Regions from separate parts of the Homo sapiens genome. Here region 1 is linked to region 2. A link means that fine-mapping ties the variant in region 2 to the expression of a gene that starts in the linked region. Tissue or cell type: unexposed skin. Region 2 holds a variant in brackets; the other region holds the start of a gene. All regions are shown on one strand. Distances are from middle to middle.

Region 1 (8,101 bases), 490 kb after region 2:
AATGACCCTATTCATAGGGGGACTCTGTTCTAGGAGTGACTCTGTTCCTGAGGGAATCCAGTTCCTTGGGGAGACCCTGTTCTAGGGGGTATCCTGTTCCTAGAGTGACCCTGTGCCTGGGGTTCCCTGTTCCTGCGAGGACCCTGTTTCAGGGGTGACCCTGTTCCTGGGGGAACCGTATTCCTAGAGTGACCCTGTTCTTGGGGGGAACCCTGATCCTGGGGGGAACCCTATTCCTGGAGAACCCTGTTCCTGGAGTGACCCTGGGCCTTGGAGTCCCTGTTCCCGTGAGGACCCTGTTTCAGGGGTGACCCTGTTTCTGGGGGGACCCTGTTCCCGGGGGTGACTCTGTTCCCAGGGAGACCCTATTTCCTGGGGGATCCTGTTCTGGCGTTGATCCTTTTCCTGGAGTGACCCTGTTCCTAGGGGTGATCCTGTTCCTGGGGGGACTGTATTCCTAGAGTGACCCTGTTCTTGGAGGGACCCTGTTCCTGGGGGGACCTTGTTCCTGGGGGAACCCTATTCCTAGAGAACCCTGTTCCCGGAGTGACCCTATTCCTGGCGGGAACCTGTTCCTAGAGTGCCCCTGTTTTAGAAGGGACCCTTTTCTGGGAGTGACCCTGTTTCTGAGGGGACCCTATTCTGGGGGGACCCTGTTCCTGGAGTGACCCTGTTCCTGGGGGGACCCTGTTCCTAAAGTGACCCTGTTTTAGGGGGGACTCTGTTCCAGGGGAGACCCTGTTCTGGGGGTGACCCTATTCCTAGTGGGATCCTGTACTAGGTGTGATGGTGGATGTCCAAGGTGGCTTGATGTCTGGGAAGACTGTTCCCAGGCTACCAGCATTCTTGGGGTAGCGCCACCCCTGCCATAGCAGCTCTCCCGGGGGACACCACTCCTCGATGAGGCCATTCCTCATGTCACGCCATCCCTCGGGTCACCCTGCTCTGCGTGTGAAGCTGCTTTTCCTTGGGGCTCCATTGCCTCAGGTGGGGGACGCTCCTGGGCCATCTGCCAACTCCAGGGACCCCACCTCCACCCAGGGAGCTCTCCTCCCCCAGCAGGGTCCTTGCTGGGCCTTTCGTAGGGCCTGGGAAGCAAAGGGAGGCTGGCTGCAAGGCTGGGCCTCAGGACTCCTTGCTCTGCAGCTACCTGTCCCACCTGGAGCGCATCACCGAGGAGGGCTACGTCCCCACAGCTCAGGACGTGCTCCGCAGCCGCATGCCCACCACTGGCATCAACGAGTACTGCTTCTCCGTGCAGAAAACCAACCTGCGGTGAGCGCTCCACCTAGGCCCAGCCTAGGGGGCAGGGAAGGCTTCCTGTAGGAAGGGCAAAGGAGCTGGGGCCCTGAGGGATGAGTAGGAGTTTCTTAGGCCCAGCCTTCAAGGAGCTGCCAAGCTAGGGGAAGCAAAGCTCCATGTAGACACCTCCAGGCCCCCAGGTAGTCAGGACTGGGACCTGTAGGAGCCCAGGCTGAGGCATCAGAGATCCAGGAGGGAATATCTTCTTGGAGGAGGGAATATTAATGGGGTTTTGAAAGACGAATAGGAGTTCAGTAGTCCTAACCCTGAAGGGGCTGCTGGGGAGGAGGAAATAGAGACTATACAGTCAGGACCAGGTCTGGGGAGGCCTGGTCTGGGGAGCTCAGAGGTGATCCCTGTAGTCATCAACACTGGGGGATGGACTAGAGTGTGAGGCTGGAAGTCAGGAAACTCAGAAAAAGGAGGAGCCAGGACAGCGGGCGTGGGGATGGAAAGGAAGGGATGGGCAAGAGTTGTTTCTGATGTGGAATGGGCAGGACTGGATGAGTGTGGGAATTAGAACAGGAAGTCAAAAATGACACCTGAGTTTTTTGTCAAGGTGATGGGGGTAGACAGTGGAGCCGGTGGGCTAGAGGATGAAAAGGTGGTGATGGAGTCCTTTGGGACAGGTTGAGTCTGAGGGGCCTAGGGGGACTCCACCTTAGCTGGCAGACAGAGGTGGGAATGGCCAGTGCAGCACCCTAACCCTAACCCTAACCCAGCAGAGCAATGGCCAATGTCAAAGGTCAGGAAAGGAAAGGTCAAGAATACAGTGAGAAGAATGACTCTGGGATTGGCAGTTAGAGGGTCACTGGTGACCTTAGCAAGATCTGTTTCCATGGGCTGATGGCGGGGAGCTGAGCAGGGGTGCAAAGTCATGCCCAGAGACAGCGATTGTGTTTGACCTACCCCTATTTGGCCTTCCTTTCCCTAAATCCCCCAAACCTATTGTTTTGGCCTCTTCAATAGTCCTTACTAGGAAGGTTCATAATTTATCTGTTTTCTGTGGGTCTCCTCTACAAGATGGAGAGCCTCACAAGGTTAGGGGCTGAGTTTGATTCTTCTGCTTCTTTAGTGAATAGCTAAAGGTCAGAGTAGAAGTTGGTAAATGTGGGTGGATGGTTGGAAAGATGGAATGGGGGCAACCCGCTCGGGTCCCCTTCCACGCTGTGGAAGCTTTGTTCTTTCGCTCTTCACAATAAATCTTGCTGCTGCTCACTCTTTGGGTCCACACCACCTTTAAGAGCTGTAACACTTACTGCGAAGGTCTGCGGCTTCATTCTTGAAGTCAGCGAGACCGAGAACCCACGAGAAGGAACCAGCTCTGGGACACAATAGTAGTGTTAGTACCCAAGGATGACTTCTATGGGAGAGATACTTGGTCTGGGAATCTTTAAAAAAAAAAAAAAAGGAAAGATGGAAGGGAATGGATGGGTGGATGAATGGGTGGATGGATAGATGAATAGATGGATGGATAAGTTGAGGGATAGATGAGTGGATGGATGGAGTGGCAGGATGGATGAGTGGATGAATCAATGGATAGATGGATGAGTGGGTGGATGGATGAATGGATGGATAGATGGATGGATTGAAAGAGGGATGAGTGGATGGATGGATGGATGGATGGTTAGATGGGTGGATGGGTGATACATGAATGGATGAGTGGGTGGATGAGTGGATAGATGGATAGATGGGTGGATGAATGGGTGGATGGATGGGTGAATGAGTGGATGGATGAATTAATGGGTAGATGGGTGGAAGGGTGATGGGTGAATGGATGGGTGGGTGGATTGGTGAGTGAAGGATGGATGGATGAGTGGATAGATGGATGGGTGGGTGGGATGGATGAATGGATGGATGAATGGGTGGGTGAATGCATGGATGGATGGGTGGATGAGTGGATGGATGGATGAATGAATGGGTAGATGGGTGGCAGGTGATGGATGAATGAATGAATAAATGGGTGAATGGGTGAGTGAAGGATGGATGGATGAGTGGGTGAATGGATGGATGAATGGATGAGTGGATGGGGGTGTGGGTGGGTGGATGGGTAGATGGGTGGACGAGTGAGTGGATAGATGGGTAGATGGATGTATGAGTAGATGGATAATGGGTGAACAGATGGGTGGATGGATAGATGAGTAGATGAAGCGATGGATGGATGGGTGGATTGAGTAAATGGGTGGACAGGCAGGTGGATGATGGATGGATGAATAGATGGGTAGATGGATAGACGGATAGATGGATGGATGAGTGAATGAATAGATGGATGGGTGGATGGATAGATGGATGGATGGGTGGGATGGATGGATGGATGGATGGATGAATGGGTGGATGGATGGGTGGATGAGTGGATGGATGGATGAATGAATGGGTAGATGGGTGGTGGGTGATGGATGGATGGATGAATGGGTGGATGGATGGGTGGATGAGTGGATGGATGGATGAATGAATGGGTAGATGGGTGGTGGGTGACGGATGAATGGATGAATGGGTGGATGGGTGAGTGGATGAATGGATGAGTGGATGGGTGGGAGGGTGGGTGGATGGGTACATGGGTGGATGAGTGAGTGGATAGATGGGTAGATGGATGGATGGGTAGCTGGGTAATGGGTGGACAGATGGGTGGATGGATGGATGGATGAGTAAATGGAGAGATGGATGGGTGGGTCGGTGGGTGGATTTCGTAAATGGGTGGACAGGTGGATGGATGATGGATGGATGGATAGATGGGTAGATGGATAGATGGATGGATGAGTGAATGGCTGGATGGGTGGATGGATGGGTGGGTGGATGGATGATGGATGGATGGATAGATGGGTAGATGGATAGATGGATGGATGAGTGAATGGCTGGATGGGTGGATGGATGAGTGGGTGGGTGGATGGGTGGATGGATGAGTGAATAAATCGATGAATGGGGTGGGTGGGTGGATAAAAGTTTAGGAGTGAAGGTAGAGGCTGGGAAATCATGGGGAAGTCTGGGCCAAGGAAGTGATTTTTAGGTGTGGCCCAGGAGTGAGACGAATGAATGGAGTGAGGGCTCAGAGGACACTGAGACCCGAGATGAGAGGTGATGCCCACAGTTCCCAACTGGTCAGTTGCTGATCCCACTCCCGTCTCAGTCTCCAGAGCCCCCTCTCGACGGCTGCTTACCCTGTCTGGCTCTGGATGTGGGGTTTGAGGGACTCTGAGGATGCATGGGAGGAGTGGGTCTCAGGGATCAGGAGACACATCCAGCAGCTGCAGCCTAACTGCTTCATCATCAGTCCCGGTTTCCCCTCCTGTGCAATGGGGCAAGTCCCTTCTTGCTTGAGGCCCTGGGCCGGGCCCGTCCAAAGCCTCTGTTCTGGGACTTCCTGAGTAACGGTTGCATCCCCAGGGAAATGACGCACAGATGGTTATCAGCGACCCACATTTCTCAGAAGAGAGAGAACAGGAAGGTGGGGGCAGGGTTCAGGCTTTTGTTACGGTGCGTGGGGCTGAGTCACAGATGGAGGGGAGGACGTGTGCTCTGGGAACAGCCCTCATTCCCATCTGTGTGGCCACTGGACATGCCCATGGCCAGCCAGAGCACAGGAGCCCCATAGCACAGATGGGAAAACTGAGTTTTGGAGATGTTTGGCAATTTCCTCCGCCGGGTCGCCCAGCCAGCACCAGGGCACATCTCAGATCTGTCCAACCTGCTCCCCTCTAATATGGGGGTAGAAAGCAGGCAGCCCAGCACAGTAGAAGCTTGGGAAAGTCCCCGCTCCTCCCTGGATCTCAGGCTTCTCATCTGTAAAATGGGCGTAAGACTCATCCTTGCCTCGCGGGAATGACATGGCAAATCCACGAGAGGCTAGCACCTATTCTTGCTGTCGCTATTATGGATCTTGGCATATCCCAGACGTGATGGGGGTTGGGGGTGTCACGGAGCAGGCTCCTGAGCTCTGAAAGGGGGCACCTCGGTTCCCTGTAGGATCGTGGACGTCGGGGGCCAGAAGTCAGAGCGTAAGAAATGGATCCATTGTTTCGAGAACGTGATCGCCCTCATCTACCTGGCCTCACTGAGTGAATACGACCAGTGCCTGGAGGAGAACAACCAGGAGGTGCGCCACCGCCTCCCTCGCCCTGCCCACTTGTTGGCCCAGGGACCCTCACCTGAGCAGGAAGCTCTGGTGCAGAAAGGGAGGGATCCCTGCTCTTGAACGGGCCTGTGTGTGCCCAGCATGGCTATGAACTTGACCCTTCAGCCTTTTGTGGTCAGATTGCAGCAACCCAAGACACAGACCTACAGCATTTGTTTGGTCAGGACCCCAGACACACACACACACACACACACACACACACACACACACACTACAGTGCACACACGCACATACACAATGCATGCACACAAACACGCACAGACACGTGCATAATACATGCACATACACACGTGCACACACGGGACACATGTACACACGCAGTGCACATGCACAACACATGCACACGAACACACATGCACCACACACATGCACACTTGCATGCACTCACGTGCACAATACACGCATATGTACACATGCGCACACACATGAACACACACATGCACACACACAGTACACACATGCACACGCACACACAGGCACACACACGCACACACAGGCACACAGGCACACACATGCGTGCACACACACATGCACGCACACGCACAGGCTGGAGTGCAGTGGCGCGATCTCGGCTCACTGGAAACTCCGCCTCCCGGGTTCACACCATTCTCCTGCCTCAGCCTCCGGAGTAGGTGGGATTACAGGCACCCGCCACCACGCTCGGCTAATTTTTTTTTTGTATTCTTAGAAGAGAGGGGGTTTCACCATGTTAGCCAGGATGGTCTCAATCTCCTGACCTCGTGATCCGCCCGCCTCGGCCTCCCAAAGTGCTGGGATTACAGGCGTGAGCCACTGTGCCCAGCCAATAGCCTCTTTTAATAAGTACACCAGTCGTCTAGGATCAGGGCCCACCCTACTCCAGTACGACCTCATCTGGGTTAATTCCTCGTGTGATGGCCCTGTTTCCAAAGAAGGTCACAAACTGAGGTTCTAGGGGGTTAGGTCTTGAACGTATGAATTTTGGGGAAATATGATGTACCCCATAACACAAGGCATTTGAGACCTTATTGTACTTTTTTTTTTGAGATGGAGTCTCGCTTTTGTCGCCCAGGTTAGAGTGCAGTGGCGCGATCTCAGCTCACTGCAACCTCCGCCTCCCGGGTTCAAGCGATTTTCCTGCCTCAGCCTCCCGAGTAGCTGGGTTTACAGGCACCTGCCATCATGCCCGGCTAATTTTTTGTATTTTTAGTAGAAACGGGGTTTCACCATGTTAGCCAGGCTGGTCTCCAACTCCTGGCCTCAGGTGATCTGCCCGCCTTGGCCTCCCAAAGTGCTAGGATTACAGCCGTGAGCTGCCGCGCCCGGCCAGGTCTCCCTCTTCTTATGAGGACAGCAGTCACGGACTTGAGGGCCACCGTATTCTAGTATTGCCTCACCTTAACGACCTCTTCAAAGACCCTATCTCCAGGCCAGGTGCAGTGGTTCATGCCTATAACCCCAGCACGCTGGGAGGCCAGGAGTTCAAGAATCTCTCTCCAGATAAGGTCACACTCTGAAGCTCTGGGGGGACATGAATTTCGGGAGGACACACTTCCAACCAGCACAGGCACAAAACCATGTCAGGCACACCCAGGCAGCTGTCCATATGGAAACACGGGCACACCCGCCTCAGCCCCAGCCAGGCAGATAGGGGTGAGCCCATGCCCCTGGAGCCAACAGCCCCGTCTCCGCGATGGGAGGGTTTCCTGTCCCACCTGGCTGGTTGAAGCACTAACCTGCTTCTGCCCCCAACACAGAACCGCATGAAGGAGAGCCTCGCATTGTTTGGGACTATCCTGGAACTACCCTGGTTCAAAAGCACATCCGTCATCCTCTTTCTCAACAAAACCGACATCCTGGAGGAGAAAATCCCCACCTCCCACCTGGCTACCTATTTCCCCAGTTTCCAGGGTAAGTAATTCTAGAACTTTCTATACCCTTCAACTCCCAAAAGCAGCTCCGAAGAGAGATGCTAATCCAGACTCTACTTCAGCCTGGAGTCACCGGAACTTTCACATAGGATCAGACCCGCGTTCTAGACTCAGCTCCATCCACTGCCCGACCTCATTGAATCTGTTTTCCCTTCTGTGGAATGGAATAAAATAGCAGAGGCCCTTGGAACTGAGTAAAGTGAGGAATTCTAAAAACACGTAGCATATCACGTACACCTTAAACATTTTATTTATTTATTTATTTTTGAGACAGAGTCTTGCTCTGTCACCAGGCTGGAGTGCAGTGGCGTGATCTCGGCTCACTGCAACCTTTCCCTCCAGAGTTCAAGCGATTCTCCTACCTCAGCCTCCCTAGTAGCTGGAACTACAGGTGCGCGCCACCACGCCCAGCTAATTTTTGTGTTTTTAGTACGAAAAGACGGGATTTCACCATGTTGACCAGGATAGTCTCGATCACTTGACCTCCTGATCCACCCGCCTCAGCCTCCCAAAGTGCTAGGATTATAGACAGGAGCCACCATGCCCGGCCAAACATTTTATTTTATGCTTGTTGGCCAACATTTGGGGTTTGAGCCAAGATCCTTCAAGCATGGGTTTGCTATGTAGAGGTCACTGTTGTAAAGCACTTCTGGAAAGATTGTCTACTATTTCCAGAATCTGCCTAGGTTTTAAGAATGATTCTTTTTCTTTTCTTTCTTTCTTCTATTTTTTCTTTTTGAGACAGAGTCTCACTCTGTCA
Region 2 (8,101 bases):
CCTAGGTACCGAGGCAAGAGACTGAGGGCACGAGCTGCCTGGCTCTGCCTTCGAGATAGCAGTAACAGAATTAGTGAAAGTACTAAAAGTCTCTGAAATGCGGAAATAATGGCGTAAGCTGTCTCCTCTCTCTCTCTCTCTCTTTGCCTCGGCTGCCAAACAGGGAAGGGCCCCATGTCCAGTGGACACATGACCTTACCTATCATTGGAGATGGCTCATACTCCTTACCCTGCCCCCTTGTCTTGTATCCAATAAATAACAGTGCAGCCTGGCATTTGGGGCCACTACCGGTCTTCATGTCTTGGTGGTAGTGGTCCCCCGGGCCCAGCTGTCTTTTCTTTTACCTCTTTGTCTTGTGTCTTTATTTCTACGATCTCTCGTCTCCACACACGGGGAGAAAAACCCACAGACCCTATAGGGCTGGACCCTACAGTTCTCAAACGCCCCTCACCCAGTTTCCCCTCATGTTAGTATCTTACATCTGGGGTCTGCAAATTTTTTCTGCAAAGGGACAAAAAGTAAGTATTTTATGCTCTGTGAGCTAAAGGGTCACTGTTGCATATTCCTCTTTGTTATTTGTTTTTTTACAACACTTTTAAAATGGAAAAGGCTTTTTAGCCCCGAGCTTTATAAAAATAAGCCAAGTATAAACAAAACGTGGTACATCCCCCGAAACCAAAATGTACCCCCGTGTTCACAGCAGCACGATTCACCACACCCCAAAGGCAGAGACACCCAAGTGACCACCGAGAGATGAATGGATAAACACAATGTCATCCATTATGCCACGGAATATGATTCAGCCTGAAAAAGGAAGGAAATTTTGACATGGGCTAGAGAGTGGATGAACTTTGAGGGCATCACGCCCAGTGAAATGAGCCAGATGCAAAAGGACAAATCCTGTGTAACTCCACGCTTAGGAGGTCCCTAGAGAGTGAGCCACACCAAATGTAAACTGTAGCTGTTAGTCAATAATCATGTATCCACTGGCTCATTAGTTGTAACAAATGTAGCACATTAATGAGAGAGGGTAACATTGGGGGAAATGCGTACCTTTTCGGGGAGAGGAGATAGGTGGGAACTCTGCCTTCTGCTCAATTCTTCTTTAGGCCTAAAACTGCTCTAAAAATAGTCTATTAAAAGGGGGACTTGAAGAGACAAATTGTGAGAGTTGTATCACGAACCAAGCGTTCTGATTTTTTTTTTTTTTTGAAATGGAGTCTCGCTCTGTCACCCAGGCTGGAGGGCAGTGGCACAATCTCGGCTCACTGCAAGCTCCACCTCCCGGGTTCATGCCATTCTCCTGCCTCAGCCTCCCGAGTAGCTGGGACTACAGGCGCCCGCCACCACACCTGGCTAATTTTTTGTATTTTTAGTAGAGACGAGGTTTCACCGGGTTAGCCAGGATGGTCTCAATCTCCTGACCTCGTGATCCGCCCACCTTGGCCTCCCAAAGTCCTGGGATGACAGACGTGAGCCACTGCGCCTGGCCTTGATTTTTTTTAAATAAAGGAGAGGAGGGCCGGGCGCGGTGGCTCACGTCTGTCATCCCAGCACTTTGAGAGGCTGAGATGGGGGGATCACCTGAGGTCAGGAGTTTGACAGGAGTTTGAGACCAGCCTGGCCAACATGGCAAAACTCCATCTCTACTAAAAATACAAAAATTAGCCAGGCATGGTGGCACTTGCCTGTAATCCCAGCTACTTGGGAAGCTGAGGCAGGAGAATCGCTTGGACCTGGGAGGCGGAGGTTGCAGTGAGCTGAGATCACGCCACTACACTCCAGCCTGGGAAATAGAGGAGTGAGACTCCATCTTAAAAAAAAAAAAAAAAAAAGAGAGGAGGGGAGGGAAAGAGGGAGGGAAGGAAAGAGGAAGGGAGAGGAAGAGGGAGAAAGGGTGGGAGAGAGAGGAAAACAGAGTGAGAGGGAGGGAGAGAGGAAGGGAAGGGGAATGAGTGTGAGCGAGGGAGGGATGGAGGAAGGAAGGAAGGGAGGGAGGGAGGGAGGGATGAGGGAAGGAAGAGGAAAGGAGAGACACCCACTTTAGACAACATGATCCGTAAGCACTGACATTTATGACTGGATCCCCTTCCACAAGCTTCCTGAATAAGCCCCAGAGAGAAGACTGGTCAGTCTTGGCCAAATGGATTTTCTGCTTTCCCCCGAGCCCCTGTGAGTATCATCACAATGTAATACCATGAGGATCAAAATCTCCTGGCCACTTAAGCCTGGATTAACCCACACCAGAGCCATCCTCCTCACCGAGGGGCCATGGCGGCGAGCGGATCACACAGCAGTCCTCATGGAATCCGTCCCAATTAGCCTCTGTCGGATTACTCACAGAACCTGCCATCCGTGGAAGGCAGATTAGCCTAGGATGCATGTGTAAATCCCATTTGGTGAACGAAAGCATATTCTGGAGATGATTAGCTTATTTCTGCAAGATGGCATCAAGTGGGAGATAACACATCTTCATCCCCGTTACACCCACAAGGCTCTGTGTAATTCTCCCTGAGCCTCATCCCTTTCCAATCCTGATTCCCTGTGGGAGAAACACAATTCCTTCCATTGAAGGGTTGATGCTGTGGGTAAGACCTTTTCATCCTCCTGCTCCAAAACCACAGGGAAGGGAGAAACTGGACGTATATTTTTCATCTGTTTACCATGTTCCTGCCCTCAAAGGTACAAGAAGACAAGCTAGAAAGTAGACGAGGCTGGGTGTGGTGGCTCACGCCTGTGATCCCAGCACGTTGGGAGGCTGAGATGGGAGGATGGGGGCCTAGGAGTTCAAGACCAGCCTGGGCAACATAGTGAGACACCCCCACCACCAACACCCCACCACCATCTGTACAAAAAATACAAAAATTAGCCAGTCGTGATGGTGTGCCCCTGTAATCACAGCTACTTGGAAGCCTGAGGCAGGAGGATCACTGGAGCCCAGGAGTTCAAGACTGTGGGGAGCCATGCTCATACCACTGCACTCCAGCCTGGGCAATGGAGGAAGACCCTGTCTCAAATAAATAAATAAAGACACAGTGACTTTTGCTTGTTCTTTCTTGGGTCATGTGTTCTGGGGGAAGCCAGCTGCCATGTTGTGGGGAAATGCAGGCAGTGCTGTGAAGAAATCCATGTGTTGCAGAAATGGGCCCTCCAGGCCGGGCACGTTGGCTCACACCTGTAATCCCAGTACTCTGGGAGGCCGAGGCGGGCAGATCACCTGAGGTTGGGAGTTCGAGGTCAGCCTGACCAACATGGAGAAACCCTGTCTCTACTAAAAATACAAAATTAGCCGGGCGTGGTGGTGCATGCCTGTAATCCCAGCTACTAGAGAGGCTGAGACAGGAGAATTACTTGAACCTGGGAGGCGGAGGTTGCAGTGAGCCAAGATCGTGCCACTGCACTCCAGCCTGGGCAACAAGAGCAAAACTCTGTCTCAAAAAAAAAAAAAAGAAAAGGAAAGAAAGAAAGAAAAGAAAGAAAGAAAGAAAGAAAGAAAAGAAAGAAAGAAAGAAAGAAAGAAAGAAAGAGAAAGAAAGAAAGAAAGAAAGAAAGAAAGAAAGAAAGAAAGAAAGAAAGAAAGAAAGAAATGGGCCCTCCAGGCTGGGCACAGTGGCTCATGCCTATAATCCCAGCACTCTGGGAGGCCAAGGTTGGGGCAGGTCATTTGAGATCAGGAATTTGAGACCAGCCTGGCCAACACAGTGAAACCCTATCTCTACTAAAAAAAAATATAAAAATTAGCCAGTAATTGGCTAATTACTGTAATTATGCCTGTAATCTCAGCTACTCGGGAGGCTGAGGCAGAA[G/A]AATTGCATGAATCCAAGAGGCAGAGGTTGCAGTGAGCCAAGATTGTGCCACTGCACTCTAGCCTGGCTGACAAAGTGAGACTCCATTAAAAAAAAAAAAAAAAAAAAAGGAAGGAAGGAAGGAAAAAAGGAAAGAAGGAAGGAACGACTCATTTGGGCATTTTGCCCTCCTGTCAAGGCCAGTTGGAAGCTGAGGCCTCCACCAACAGCCACATGAGGGCGCCCTCTTGAAAGCAGCTCCTCCAGCTCCAATCGAGCCTTCAGATGATACAGCCCCAGCACATTCACTGCCAGAATCACCCAGTGGAGCTGCTTCCTAACTCCTGAGTGAGGGTGGAAAAAACTCAAACTCAAATTGCTTTTCCTCTTGCTCTCACATCAACAGCAATCAACATGGCCAGGTGCAGTGGCTCACGCCTGTAATCCCAGCACTTTCAGAGGCCAAGGCAGGTGGATCACTTAAGATCAGGAGTTTGAGACCAGCGTGACCAACACGGTGAAACCCTGTCTCTACCAAAAATACAAAAATTAGCCAGGCGTGGTTGTGGGCACCTGTAATCTCAGCTACTCAGGAGGCTGAGGCAGGAGAATCACTTGAACCTGGGGGGCGGAGGCTGCAGTGAGCAGAGATTGCACCATTGCACTCCAGTCTGGGCGACAGAGCGAGACTCCATCTCAAAAAAAAAAAAAAAAAAAAATCAACCCAAGATATTTCTGTGACCAAATGTGAGAGGAGTTTCCCCACACACCAGCTAGCTGTCCCCTAATTCGATTCAGTTCAATTCAATTCAGGTGCTATCTACCTGGAGACAGCCTTGGACCCCACAGGTTGAGGGCTAAATCCCCCCACAAGACTGCCCCTAACCTCTTCAGATACCAGTAGCAAGTTTGGGCCTCCAGAACTTCCAACTGACCAGCTTGAAGTTAGGGTTGGGTTTAATTTACTACAGCAGCTCTCGGAATTCAGGGAAACACATTTACTGGTTTAATATAAAGCATATTACAAAGAATACAGACGAAAAGATGCATAGGATGAGGTATAGGGAAGAAGGGCAAAGCTTCCTTGGCATGCTACCCTTCAGGAACCTCCATGTGCTCAGCTATCTCAAAGTTCTCCAAACCCCGTCCTTTTGAAGTTTTATGGAGGCTTTACTTCATAGGCATGACTGATCGCGTCACTGGCCACTGGTCATCACCTCAACCTTCAGCCCTTCTCCCCTCCCCAGAGGCTGGAGGGTACAGCTAAAGGTTCCAGCCCTCTCATCCTGCCTTGATCTTTCTGGTGGCCAGACCATTCCTGAAAATAACTAGAAGCTGTCAGCCATCAGTCGACTTATCATCATACAAAAAGACATGACTTTGCAGATTCCAAGGATTTTAGGAGTTCTGCACCAGAAAAAAATCAGGACAAAGACCAAATAATATAATAAATATAATGCAAGTAATATAATATCCCACTGACCCACAGAAACTGCAGGATAGTAAATGCTTGCTGTTTAAGCTAAGTGTTGGGGTAATTTGTTACACAGTGATAGATAACTGGTACATCTGCAAAGGGAAGGAAGGGCTGATCCACATGACTCCTCCAAGCAGATGTTGCTATAGTTTGAATGTGTCTCCCAAAAAGCATATTGTAGAAACTTTAATTCCCAATGCCACCATGTTGAGAGGTGAGAACTTTAAGAGGTGATTAGGTTATGAAGGCCCTACCCTCATTAATGCCATCTCTCTTTCTCTCTCCCTCTCACCCTTTCTCTCTCTCTCCCCCCCCTCCTCTTTCTTCCCCAGTTCCCCAATCTTTCATATATGTGCTCTTTTGCCCTTCCACCTCTGACGCAGCAAGAAGGCCCTCACCAGATGCCAGCACCTCGACATTGGACTTCCCAGTCCCTAGAACCGTTAAGAAACAAATCTCTATTATTTATAAATTATCCAGTCTATGGCATTCCATTATAGCAGCACAAAATAAAGACAGGTGTGTAGTCAAACATTACCTTTTCCTAAAAGCCAGCAATTGGATTTTTCATTTTCTTGTTTTTCCAATATCTATCAACCTGATAATTGGGAGAGATGCAAAAGCCCAGATGGATAAGGTACATTCACTGAGGGCAAATCAGAAGAATGACCAGGCCAAGAAAATGATTCATTTTGGCATTTTGCAAATTATCAAGATATGCATGCCAGCACCAGTTTTTAAAACTGAACAAATCCACTGGCTTTTATCTATTTCCTACTAAAGCAACGTGGCTTGATCTTGACACTATTAAACTGGGGCTTGATTATTCTCTGGGGTGGGGCCGTTCTGGGCACTGCACAGTGCTGAGTAGCATCCCTGGTCTCCACCTACTCCAGGCCAGGAGCACCCCCAAGTCACGGTACCCACAAATGTCCCCAGACATTACCAGTGTCCCCCAGGGGGCAGGCTTGCCCCCAGTTGAGACCCAATGCTCTAAGGCATGTCCCTCAAGGGCAGGACAGCCAGGGACCTGACATTTGATGACAGGCCTATCCTCCACCGCCCCCCAGGCCCGGCTGCACTTCCTCCTCTGGGAACTGAGTGGGCAGGACGGGCTGTCAGAGCCCCCTTCCCTTCCCACGCTGACATTCTGCCAGCACGTGGCAGGGGCGTCTTGTCTCGTTGGAGGCTGGATATAGAAACACAGCCCTGTCCTTTGTGCCATCGCTGAAGTTGTCAACCTCAGCCTTCACTCATCACCACAGCAACCATCTAAATATGTCACCAGCAAAGTGCTGATTGCAAAGGAAGGGGGCAGAGAGGCCTGGACGGGCTCTCACCCAGGTGCAGGCGCAGGGGAGGTGCCGGGACTGGGGGAGTGACGTGGCTGCTTCAGAGCCACGAGACTGATGACGGCCAGGCCGGGCGTGACCTGGAACAGGCTCCACTGCACCCTGGGGCACACAGAACAAAGGGGCAGGCCTGCTTGACCCTGAGGGTTCAAGGTCTCTGTGAGCCGAGGTCAAGGAGGGGGAAGGAACAATCAGACGGTTGGCTCTGTGTCCTGCACCCTCAGTGCTCTAGAGACCCTCCTCACCCAGTCCTCTAGGTCACTCTGGGAGGATGGCCCCGGCTGACACCGTCTGCCCCATCGGGAATCTATTCTGGTGTCTACTGTGAGCAGGGAGCAAACTCATTTTTTTGCCAGTTAATGCAAGGTCTCTCCCCTGGAAACCGTGGACATTCAGAGCTGGGTCATTCTCTAGGGTGCAGCTGTCCCGGACACTGCAGGGTGCTGAGCAGTGTCCCTGGCCTCCACCCACTCCACGCCACGACCATCCTCAAGTTGTGACAACGACAAATGTCCTCAGACAACACCCAGTGTCCCCTGGGGCAGAATCACCCTCAGTTGACACCCCCTGAATTAGGAAATTCCACGGACCCCCAAGATACTCTGTCCCCTGATCTTCTGTCCTGCTGAGGTCCCAGGAGGCTGCACACATTGAAATCCACACCTTTAGTTGGGGGGAGGGAGAGAGGAGGTGAATCCCACGAGCTGGGGTCCCCTGGTTTACACCGTCTGCCCCATCAGGAGTGTGTCCTGGTGAGCAGGAAGCAGACTCCATTTCTTCTCCAAATAATGAATGCTGAGTCTCTCCTCCCAGGCACGGTGGACACTGGGGCTGTACCATTCTCTGGGATGGAGCCGTCCTGAGCACTGCAGCACGCTGAGCGGCATCCGTGACCTCCAGCCACTGCATGCCCGGAGCACTTCTCAATGGTGACAGCCACAAATGTCCCCAGACATGGCCCAGTGTCCCCTGGGGGGGGGGGGGCAGGATCACCCTGCCGTGCTGGACAGTCCTCGCCACACCCCACCTCTTGGAACTGGAATGTCTGGTGAGACGGGCAACAAGGATTTGGGAAGAGGGCCATGCGGGACAAAAAAAAGAAAGAAAATGAGAACGAACGGATTTCTATTTCCCCTCAATGTGAAAATAGCTCCACTGAGTCCCGAGGAAGGATTGGGTGGGGACGTACGCTCTGGTATGGCCAAGGTGGAGTGCTGGACAAGAGCTACTCCATTCTGACTTCACGACTCGCTGTCTGGCTGGGTGACCTTCAGTCCCTTGCCACTGTCGCTGTGCCTCAGTTTCCCACTCTGTAGAATGCACATCGAAGCAGCATCCACCCTGTGAGACTGGTTTTGGAGATTACATAAATGAGTATCTATAAAATGTTTAAAGTGGTGTCTGAGCCATGGGTCATGGCACATACTGGCTTTATTATTTAGAACCTGGATTACCTCCTTTTATTATTCTTTTTCAATTTATTTTA

What was found. PIP is the estimated chance that this variant, and not a neighbour inherited with it, causes the effect.
Region 1: it holds the start of GNA15-DT, and the variant in region 2 is fine-mapped to the expression of GNA15-DT in unexposed skin (GTEx, PIP 0.99).

Annotation. Positions count from the first base shown.
Region 1 is chr19:3,150,561-3,158,661 of GRCh38, forward strand. It overlaps GNA15-DT (GNA15 divergent transcript), which reads right to left and starts at 4,615. Exons shown (of 4, transcript NR_110670.1): 1 at 4,458-4,615. GNA15 (G protein subunit alpha 15) reads left to right here. Exons shown (of 7, transcript NM_002068.4): 4 at 1,147-1,275; 5 at 5,263-5,392; 6 at 7,168-7,321. RefSeq lists enhancers at 4,231-5,188, 4,476-4,805, 4,846-4,935.
Region 2 is chr19:2,657,776-2,665,876 of GRCh38, forward strand. The region is part of intron 1 of GNG7 (G protein subunit gamma 7); the gene reads right to left. Among named protein-coding and RNA genes, the nearest start is that of MIR7850, 31 kb to the left of the region's middle. The variant G/A (reference allele first, on the strand shown) is at 3,808.